Linked DNA regions of Homo sapiens. The protein of the gene in region 2 purifies or fractionates together with the protein of the main gene of each other region. This does not show direct contact. Each region holds a gene or a part of one and is shown on either strand. Other genes may lie near its edges.

The links. Proteins that work in one complex are often made in the same cells at the same time.
Region 1: the proteins of MPZL1 (region 2) and ALDH1A2 purify together in Homo sapiens (affinity purification with mass spectrometry; one large-scale study listed by BioGRID and IntAct). This does not show direct contact.

Annotation. Positions count from the first base shown.
Region 1 is NC_000015.10:57,960,557-57,965,978, forward strand, and holds part of ALDH1A2 (retinal dehydrogenase 2), read right to left. Parts: intron 5,272-5,422; coding exon 5,169-5,271; intron 3,514-5,168; coding exon 3,329-3,513; intron 1,621-3,328; coding exon 1,456-1,620; intron 739-1,455; coding exon 581-738; intron 289-580; coding exon 214-288; intron 1-213. UniProt on the Homo sapiens protein: Catalyzes the NAD-dependent oxidation of aldehyde substrates, such as all-trans-retinal and all-trans-13,14-dihydroretinal, to their corresponding carboxylic acids, all-trans-retinoate and all-trans-13,14-dihydroretinoate, respectively.
Region 2 is NC_000001.11:167,769,470-167,774,891, reverse strand, and holds part of MPZL1 (myelin protein zero-like protein 1 isoform a precursor), read right to left. Parts: intron 2,618-5,422; coding exon 2,404-2,617; intron 1,657-2,403; coding exon 1,524-1,656; intron 1-1,523. UniProt on the Homo sapiens protein: Cell surface receptor, which is involved in signal transduction processes. Recruits PTPN11/SHP-2 to the cell membrane and is a putative substrate of PTPN11/SHP-2.

The DNA.
Region 1 (5,422 bases), on a different chromosome or scaffold from region 2:
TTAATTTTTTCCATTCTCACTTTGGGAAATGGAATTGTGTTTTATTCATCTCTATAACATGTAATAGAACTTAGCTTATAGTAGCATGTGCTCCACGAAATGTTTGTTGAATGTATGGATGAGTGTAAGATAATTAAACTATTTTTTAAGTACTGCTCTGTGCTGATATTTGCAATCTATTTCTCTGCAGGCATCAGCAACTTTAAGACTTACATTTCTCTCCCATTTCCAGACATCTTGAATCCCCCAAAGGGGCTCTGGGCATTTAAGGCATTGTAACAATTGATCCTGAAAGAAGAAAACATAGCACTGTGAGTTCGTGTGAAGTCTGAGCACATAATCTGACTGGCATGGTATTTCTTTTAGAAGTTTTATTTTTAAATTCCTTTCCTCCAGAGGAAAAAATTGTAATTTAAAATCTACTTTGATTTCTGGATCTAAGCAGTAAGGAGTGTACCCCTTTTCTGGTGAACTTTGGTTGCTTTTGGTATTCCCCATCCTTCCAAGGAGATACTTGTTTATTTCACCCTGGTCCCTATACCACCAGTGGAATTTGTTACAAGACTGACTCTGATCTTACCAAACAGTCCCAGCTTGCATTGCAGAAGACACTGTGAGGGCCTTGTTGATGTCATTAGTAAAGACAGCTGCTACGAGTCCAAAGTCTGAGTTATTGGCTCTTTCGATAACTTCATCCATCGTCTTAAATCTCAAAATTTCCTGAACAGGGCCAAAGATCTGCAAAAAGATAATATGACTCAACATGGTTGCTCTGTCATTCCTTTACCTGCTTTCCACATTTCAATGCAAGTTTACTCTGCCTTGATTACTTAAATGACCTTTAAGTTTAGCAGTACAAAACTGTAAAATCTCCCAACCTTTCCTAGGATAAGATTATGCAAGAAGAGTCTGACATTAGTGTTTAACCTCCCCAACTTCCCCAACCTCTCCAGCATCACTTGATTCCACTGTGTATACTAGGGGTGTCTTCTTTAGGTACAGAAGAGCAAGTGGCATCCTCCGTGATCCTGCAAACACTGCTCCAGAACGGAATGCTCTGGACTGTGGGCTGATTTGCTCCTTGTCCCTCTCTTGCACAGATGTAAAGATGCTTCAGTGGATTCTCTCTCCTGGTTAACATCCCAGTGACCCACATTTAGGAGAGCCGAACTATTGCCAGTGTATTGTTGAGGCCAATGGCAGGCTATTCTGATTGTTCTGTTGGCTAATAATAATCATAAGCACATAGCATGTCACCTGGCCTCCACCTAGCTTGCTTGTCTTTTGGTTTATTTTTCTTCTTGAAACTGGAATTTTCATAGCCATGTTCATTACTGTTGCAAAATGAATATATGTAAAATATAAAGAGCTAAAACTCTAATATCATCCACTAGAAATGCTCTAGAAATGATCCCAAGAAAGATGTGGCTTTTGTAAGAACAGCATATTTGATACCTCCTCCTTGGCAATCCGCATATCATCAGTGACGTTGGAAAACACTGTGGGCTCAATGAAAAACCCCTTTCGGCCCAGTCCTTTGCCTCCACATTCCAGCTTGGCGCCCTCAGCCACACCACTCTGGATGAGTTCCAAGATCTTGTTGTACTGTTTCTTATCAATCTGTGGGAGACAAGACTTAATGACTCCAAATATAACCTTCTATGAAAATGGAAATAAGTATGTTCTTGAGAATCTTTCATTTTAGGGTTTTTTTCAAAGTTTAACTACACCCAGTCAGATCATATAAAACTGCTGTTACTTACCAATTTTTGACCTACAAAAAACTGGCAATTTTGTATGGTTAATCCTAATATATCGACGATTCCAATAAATGTACTGCTCTGATGATATTGCCTAATCAGAAGTACCAGCTGAACATTTAGAAAAATGTTTCAAAATGATGGAGACACTGGCTAATTTACTATTCAATGTTCATATGAGGGAAAATTGACTTTTATAATTAAATGAGTAACTTAGCAAGTTGTATTGATAGTAAAAAGAGGCAAAAATTAGCACACAGCCTTTTTAGATAGTGCTACATACCCAATCTTATTGTGGTTTGTTTTTAAAGGAATTCCTATTACACTTTTAGAGGAACTTTAGAGGAAAATATTAACAGTAAAGAGTGAAGGATGAGCTTCCTAGTCCAAAAAAAAACAAGGTCAGTCTTCCCCCAAAAAACTGACGGAGTTATCATTTGCTTATTATGGTAAATAACACAAAAACCTACATTTACCCAAGTTTGAATGGCTCAGCCAGAACATCAATCTTCTCTTGAATAATCCCTAAACCCATGCTTTAGTGACCCATATAAGAGCTGGTCCAGGTTCCTTCTGAAAATTCTCAGAACCTGTCTACAGATTAAAACCAGAATTCCCTTTAGAAATATGCCTCGATGATTACGGTGAACCTGCAGAGGAGGCTGTTCAGGAGAGACTTTGTGGCCCTCCCCACCCCACTAAAGTACACGAGGCCTTCAGATTAAGAAATAACCATACAGCAAAAGGGAAGTGAGCCAGCCCTTCACTTCCTACACTTTCACAAGCTACAAGGGATCTGTCCAGACTGGTTCAGGCTGCTGGAGAGACTCCTTGGCAGCTCGTAAAAGGATAGATGGCTCTAGGAAAGAAAGATATCTACCCTCCTTGACTGTGGCATCTGTAGGGATGTCCTAAAGTTCAGTGATTGGAAGGACTGGGACTGGGTTCTAGTGTCCAGACCCATCTTGTCATACTCATGGCTTTCTTTAGAACTGAGAGACTCCAGCTTAGTCCCAAAGGTCAGAATATTCTTTTTTTTTTTTTTTTGAGACGGAGTCTTGCTCTTTCGCCCAGGCTGGTGGAGTGCAGTGGCACAGTCTGTAAGCTCCATCTCCCGGGTTCACGCCATTCTCCTACCTCAGCCTCCCGAGTAGCTGGGATTACAGGTACCCGCCACCTCGCCCGGCTAATTTTTTTTTTGTATTTTTAGTAGAGACAGGGTTTCACCATATTAGCCAGGATGGTCTCGATCTCCTGACCTCATGATCCGCCCGCCTCGGCCTCCCTAAAAGCTGAGATTACAGGCGTGAGCCACTGCGCCCGGCCAGAATATTCTTAAAGTAATGGTAATCCCATAGTTTTTCAGAGATAAAACTTAGAAAGGGACAGAGAAGCATAAGAAATAAGCAATCCCTCTCTGGCTCCATTTCCAGCCACGAAGACATGGTGGAGAATAAAGGAGTCAGCCGAAAAGGAAGATGTCGCTTTGCTGGGACCTACTACAGTGTACACAGTTCTGTGCCAGTCAAGGATTAAGTAAACAAAGGGAATGGTTATGATTTTTCTACCTGGGGACCCTGCTCAGTGGTGGGGTCAAAGGGACTCCCCACTACGCGCCTCTTGGCCCGCTCCACGCTTCTTCTCACAAACTCCTCATAGATGGACTCCTCCACGAAGATGCGAGAGCCTGCAGTGCAGCACTGACCTTGATTGAAGAACACACCCTGGTGGGCCTGCTCCACAGCATAGTCCACTACAAGAGGAAACAGCCATGTTCTCACCGCTTTGCCTGGGGAGGGGCCTGTCTATGAAGCCGCCTCCCTCCCCTCTCCAAAGCCCTAGGTATAGTGTGCTCACTGCATGACATAACCATGAATAGCCCTGGATTGGGAATGCAACTAGTTCTAACTACACCCTGACATGCTATGTGAACTTGAACAACTTCACTTCTTTGGGTCTCTTTCTTATTCTGCAAACAGAGGTACTGAACCTCGTGTATAACAGGAGTCTCAAACCCCTATATACCACAGGGCTTGGGAGATAAGGTACAGGTATGAGTCTGCCAGGTGGTAAAGCAATGTAATGGAGGGGCTAAGAAGGAAAGCCACTACATTTAATCATTGCCATGCATAAATATGAGCCCCAGGTTGCCAGATCCTCTCAATTTTCACAGAAATCAATATTTTAATGTGCAGTTCTTGTTTTGAACATAGTGTAATGTTTAGACAGGTAAACATGTCTATATTTTGTATTTGGCCAATTTACAACTCCTAAATCTACAGGGCCTTGGGGCTGTATGTTTGGTACTTGGGGGATTAAACCGTAACACCAATGGGTCTTCTTTGAAGACACTAAATTTCCTCTAGATTGACATGGACTTGTGTAAAATCCTATGATAACTCTTCCATATTCATCCCTTATATCTTACACTTCAAAACAGCTTAATCTGACGTGCATTAGTTGCTAAATGACCGACTGACTGAATAAATGAATCAGTCAATGTTAGGGAGATGAAGTTCCTACTCCTCAAGAGGAACAGGCATAAGGATTCTGATTTTCTTGACAACTAATATAAAGCTAAAGCTGAACTCTGCAAATTCCAAGCTGGTGCTGAAATTCAAGCAATCTGCTTTTGGTTTTCTGATCTCTCTGGTGGTGAGACTGGGAAAGCAGCTCTGCCTGGCAACAAGTGGAGGGAAAAAAAAAAAAGAATCACTGAATGAGATGGTGGGATTTCCTTACCTGGAGAGCTTTTCAAACAGAAACGTCACACCTGTGCAGAATGGCCTAGGTGGCATCCTTCCTAGAGACATGGGGTTTCTCAGTTACTTCTCTAAGCCTCTGTAAGGTCCTACTGGCAAGTGGAATCATCCCAGCTTTAGGACTACTCATACCGAACTGACCCACGTGTGCTGTCATCCTAACTGAAAGTCATGCGAGCAACAGAAAGGGGCTGGAATTGACTAAACAGAGAAGGGGCTGTGGGTTTGGAAAATGCTGGCAGGGCTGGTCAAGTCGGATTTATTTAAAATGGTCTACCAGCCACCAGGCACAGTTGAAAAGTTACAGATTTATTGAATCTAGGCAGAGAGACTATCCTTCAGGTGCTCAGCAGCTGAGACCACTGCTGTTGAACCATATGCCACTGACCAAGCCTTCATCTCATCCCCCTATTCTACAACATCACAGATTCAAAATGGCTCATTAGTGTCTAGAAAACAACTGGTTCAGTCGTCAACTGAAAAGTGCTCTTTCCCCATTATTAAACCATTTTCTCCTTAGAGGAGATCTTTTTGATTGCCCTTAGCTTCAAATATCTTTTGCTAGTGTCCCATCAAAAGTGGAGATATAAAAGAGAGCACCAAAGGGTGTGTGGTGGTTCATGTATGGGACCTGTAGTTGACTTACAGTCAGCATCAGCAAAAATAATATTAGGACTTTTGCCTCCAAGTTCCAGAGTTACTCTCTTCAAATTACTTCTTCCAGCTGCTTCTTGGATAAGCTTTCCAACCTGAAAGAAGGGAAATGGAGACAGGTTTTGCAAATCCTGCAGGTGAGACAGTCACCGGCCAATGCCAGCTCAGGGCATCAATGGGATGCAACAGTAACAAACCCTAAAAGGCAAGCCAACCCAGCTCTTGTCATCAGCTTGGGTTACAAGA
Region 2 (5,422 bases):
CATACACAGGAATATTAACAGTAATGGGCAATGTGATTAGTTACCATGTGTCTAGTGGGAGTGGAAGAGGAGACCCAGCCCTGTTATAGTCCCAATGTGTCTTCTATGTCAGCTTTTCTTAAGAAGTGGAAGATAAGCAGGATCTGATCCCAGCACACCAAGGTAGAAAAGGTAGAGGAGGAGGAAAAAAACCAAGGTAAGAAGAACAGCAGCATTCATGATGCCATGCAGGAGTCTAAGGAACTCTTTCCTGCCCCTCATTAACCCCGAAGCAAGAACTACAAAGACCGGCATGTCACCACCCTGGATTAGTCTCATGTTGAAACCAATAGTCCAACTATATTTAATCATAAAACACTCACCATGCAAGGGGGGCAGATACAGTCAGCAGAATAGAAGCATTCCAAGCAAGTAATATCTGAATTTGAACACTCAAACTTGTTAAAACACAGCACTCCTAAAAACTCTAGATCAGCAGAGCCCATAGATAGAGGTTCCCACCATCCACCAGCAAGAGAGTTCAGGACATGCAATCCTTTCACATCAGAGTCCCTTCAGGATGGCTAAAGTTAGATCTGTGCATCTGCAACACTGCTCATGCTATATCAACTTGAATCCAGCCTCTGCTCCCAGTCTTACCACATGAGTTCTACATAGCTTATATGGGTTAGCTTTCCAGCTGGAGTGGGGAAAAGAGAAGGTCCTTTAATTAGATACACACCCTATGCTTAAACGTGTTCCATCTGAGAAGCCATAAACAAAAAGAAAGTCTATTTTTCTTTATTGCTGATATATTTTGTCATCAATTCTTATTATCCCATTTTGGGTGAATCTAGCTAAGAATGATCAAAGCAATAAAGCTACTTAAGCTTGGAGTGGGGTAGGGGAACTACAAAAAGGAAAAGCCCTGCACCATCATCACACTGGGCTGGGGGAGGTAGTTTATTAAAACCACTGCTTTTTCTTCTTCTTTCTTTCTTTCTTTTTTTTTTTTTTTAAAGAGACAGGATCTTGCTATGTTGCCTAGGCTAGATTCAAACGCCTCGGCTCAAGCAATCCTCCTGCCACAGCCTAAGTAGCTGGGACTTACAGGCACATGCCACTAATTCCAGCTCACAACTTCTTAATTAGGGTTTTATATTTCCTAACTGGAAAGAACCACCTTGTGAGTTTATTAGCAAGAAATTGAAATTAAACTCTTAAATTGGGTAAGTGATGTCTTAAGAATACTAATTGCATAGTGGATGGTATTGAAACACAGAGCACAGACTGCTGAGCAGCTCATCTCACCAAACCTAAGAAGGAAACTGGAACAGAGATTAGAATCATATTCCACATTTAATAGCAGGCCCACTGATTTCCACTTGCCCATGTTAGAACACCTCCTAAGGAGACTGCCTGATTCTGACATGAAAGAAAATAGTAGTTAATTCTTTAAAATCCTTTTTTCATTAAATACAGAAGTTTCTATAAACCCTGATTCCCTCCCTCCACCCCTGCCCTAAAAAAACAGTGTTTCTTACCCAGTGTAATCCCGTTTAGAGTTTTTCCTTCTATAGAGGACAGCCAGAATCATGCTGATGAGCAGAGTGAGACCTAGGACCACAGCAGTAACTATGCCCACCACTACCCAAACTGGAAACACAGGCAAATTCTCTAGAGAGAAAGAACAAAATAGTTTTAAGGTACATTGCTACAGAGAGAAAACATGGAATTTTATTAAATTAACGAGCAAGTATCTTCATTTAGCAGTTACCGTACCCTCTTTTATTATCCAAACTATGAGATCCTACTATCTATCCTATTACTATGTAATTCATGACATGTGAATATTAGATGAGAAAGAATGAACTATGGAACTAAGCATTTCTACACCTACAATCCCTCTCAGTGCTCTAAAGAAAAACCGGAGGTGTGAATTTACCTGGATCTACTCTCCAACAAAACAGACTTTGTCTCAAAAATGAGACACCAGAACCTGCATTTCCTGTTTGTTCTCAAAATCAAAAGGAAGAAATAACTGTGCTGTTGTTGAAAGCTTTCTCCTGGAGAATATAAAACAGTATGAATCTCCTTCTTTCCCACTGCCCATCACATCCAAACATAATGAATTTGGTCTTTCTTCTAATTAACACTGAAAAATTCATACTCCTGAAATTAGACCAATAGGCACCAGACGGTAGGAATAAAAATGGAGAAATCAGCCACTCTGGGTCAGAATGAGCAACAAGTTTCCCAGCTCCAAGTGTGTTTGGTAGAGCCACAGGTTCGTGGCAACAGGGAGCACAACTGTATGGCAAAAATCCTCCCTCCAAACCCACCATGAAATGCAACTCATGTTTTCCAACCAAACATGAGATAAAGGAGACTGCATTATTACTGCCAAAATACTCAAGGAAGTACCTTTTTCTACGACATAGAGCCTAATGTGTCCAGGCTGGACAACGATGTCAGGAGGGTTTTTGACATCACAGATATAGGTGCCATTGTGTATAAACTGCATATTTTCTATGTTGATTGATGCATCTTTCTTGTCAAGGTCTCCAGCCCAGCTGATTCTGTCTTTAAATGGTGGATAATTCCCAAGGTACACTTGCCCTTGGGAGTAGTGGAAAAACTGCAATTAGAAAAAAGGAACACATGAACTATTCTCAAAGGCAGAATTCCTAAACTCTGTAATGTGCATGCTATGAAAGGTTCTTTTAAAGACTTCATACGGAAAGAAATGCAACATCTCTCTCCCTCTCCCTCTCCCCCTCTCTCTCCTCCTTTTTTCGGTCTCCCTCTGTTGCTGAGGCTGGACTGTACTGCCGTGATCTTGGCTCGCTGCAACCTCCCTGCCTCGGGCTCCTGTGATTCTCCTGCCTCGGGCTGCCGACTGCCTGGGATTGCAGGCACGTGCGGCCACGCCTGACTGGTTTTTGTATTTTTGGTGGAGAGGGGTTTTGCCGTGTTGACCGGGCTGGCCTCCAGCTCCTGACCTGGAGTGTTCTGCCTGCCTCAGCCTCCCAAGGTGCTGGGTTTGCAGATGGAGTCTTGCTCACTCAATGCTCAATGCTGCCCAGGCTGGAGTGCAGTGGTGTGATCTCGGCTCGCTGCAACCTCCACCTCCCAGCCACCTGCCTTGGTCTCCCAAAGTACTAAGATTACAGCCTCTGCCCAGCTGCCACCCCATCTAGGAAGTGAGGAGCGTCTCTGCCTGGCCGCCCATCCTCTGGGATGTGAGGAGCCCCTCTGCCCGGCCACCCTGTCTGGGAAGTGAGGAGCGCCTCTGCCCGGCCACCACCCCGTCTGGGAAGTGAGGAGCGCCTCTGCCTGGCCGCTGTGCAATCTTCCAAGTGTGAAGTGACAGCCTTTCTGCACGTGTACCCAACAGCTCCGAAGAGACAGCGACCATTGAGAACGGGCCATGATGACGATGGCGGTTTTGTCAAAAAGAAAAGGGGGAAATGTGGGGAAAAGAAAGAGAGATCAGATTGTTACTGTGTCTGTGTAGAAAGAAGTAGACATAGGAGACTCCATTTTGTTCTGTACTAAGAAAAATTCTTCTGCCTTGGGATGCTGTTAATCTATAAACCTTACCCCCAACCCCATGCTCTCTGAAACATGTGCTGTGTCAACTCAGGGTGAAATGGATTAAGGGCGGTGCAAGATGTGCTTTGTTAAACAGATGCTTGAAGGCAGCATACTCGTTAAGAGTCATCACCACTCCCTAATCTCAAGTACCCAGGGACACAAACACTGCGGAAGGCCGCAGGGACCTCTGCCTAGGAAAACCAGAGACCTTTGTTCACGTGTTGACCTTCTCTCCACTATTATCCTATGACCCTGCCACATCCCCCTCTCCGAGAAACACCCAAGAATGATCAATTAAAAAAAAAAAAAAAAAGAAATGCAACATCATATTACAAATCACAAGTTATGGAATCTAAGCCAGACAGAAGTTTAGAGATCACGGCACTCAACCCTGCCAGGTTTCAATGGAAGAATCAGACTCATATATCACCTCTAATCCTCTCAATATTTCATTGATATAATTATTACCACCCATAATTTTATAAAAGACAAAATGGAGACTTAAGAGAAGCCATTTTCCCAAGGTACCAATGATAGTAAATTGGGGACCCAGAGTAAAATTTAGGCCCATCTGAGTCTTCAAAGCCAATGTTCTTCCAGTAACACCATGATTGAGCCCAGTGATTCCCAAGGCTTCAGAAAGCTTAGTGTTGAGTTAGCTTACCACTAAGATACACAGAAGCACAAAGGAGAAGAATCCTAAATATCTCAGATCAGCTAATCTGAGTTTCGCCCTCTTCCTTCTGGTTTCCTATGGAAAAGTCATGGGTGTGTGAAAGGAACAAAGCCCAGATAACACAAGATACTCTTGCCGGCTTTTGAAAGTTCAGCCTTTAGCCCCTTTCTCTTTCCACTCCTCAGTCTCTCCTCAGTCCTGCTTTCAGCAAAGGAACTGTCTTCTCAAAGTAAACCTTGTCAAACTCAGCACCTGGAAGCAGGGTTAAGGCCCAGTGGGAGGGGATCTATCCTCACACTTGGCTCTAATCCAAGCAGCTATGCTGGAGGCCTGATGTCTTTGTTCTGGTTAATGGACGGGGTGATGGTGGAGCTGGGGATAGAAACCAGCTCTATTAGCAATTCAAACAGAACATTTTCAGAACCCTTTGAGCACGGTGAAAACCCCAGTGCAGACTCATCCATTCCTATGATTTAATGATCATCTAGATTTTCTTAACTCCCAAACCTCTCTCTCCATCAATAGCGTCCCCTAAGCTCTAGACTCCTTGCCTACTCACTTTACCACCTGGCTGCCCCTCTCCCCCAAGCTTGTCACCCTCTCTTACAAACTTCATCTTCCCCTCTTCATGTATCGTGTCTTCACTGATGGCTACTGTTTCTTTCCAAAACCATAAATCTTGAAGTCATCCTTGATTCTCTTTCTTCCTATCCAGTTAATCCCCCAATATTGTCAATGTCTCATTAGTTTCTCTCAGTTCTCTCTTCTCTCTATTCGGTTCCCACTGACAATATCTGTTTTTATGTTTTCATCATCTTGGACTATGGCCTCTTAACTGGTATGTCTAACTCATCATCTTCCACAATGCCTAAATGATCACTGATAAAGAATAATGGTTATTATTATAACATTTATCAAATATTTACCCTGCATTTCATATGACCTAAATGCTTGTTAAGAACCGTGAAGGGTCTGAGATTTTACCCTACTTACAAGCTAACAAAGTTAGTTGGCCACAGGTTCATAGGTGCTGACAGAAGACACGGACTCCTGTGAAATCTTCACTCCCATGAAGAAGACTCAGAAACAAAGAACCTTATGAGCAGAAAGCATGTGTTTGTTTCTCTTGCCCCGCAAGTCCCATAGCCATGACATGGAGGGGCTCACATG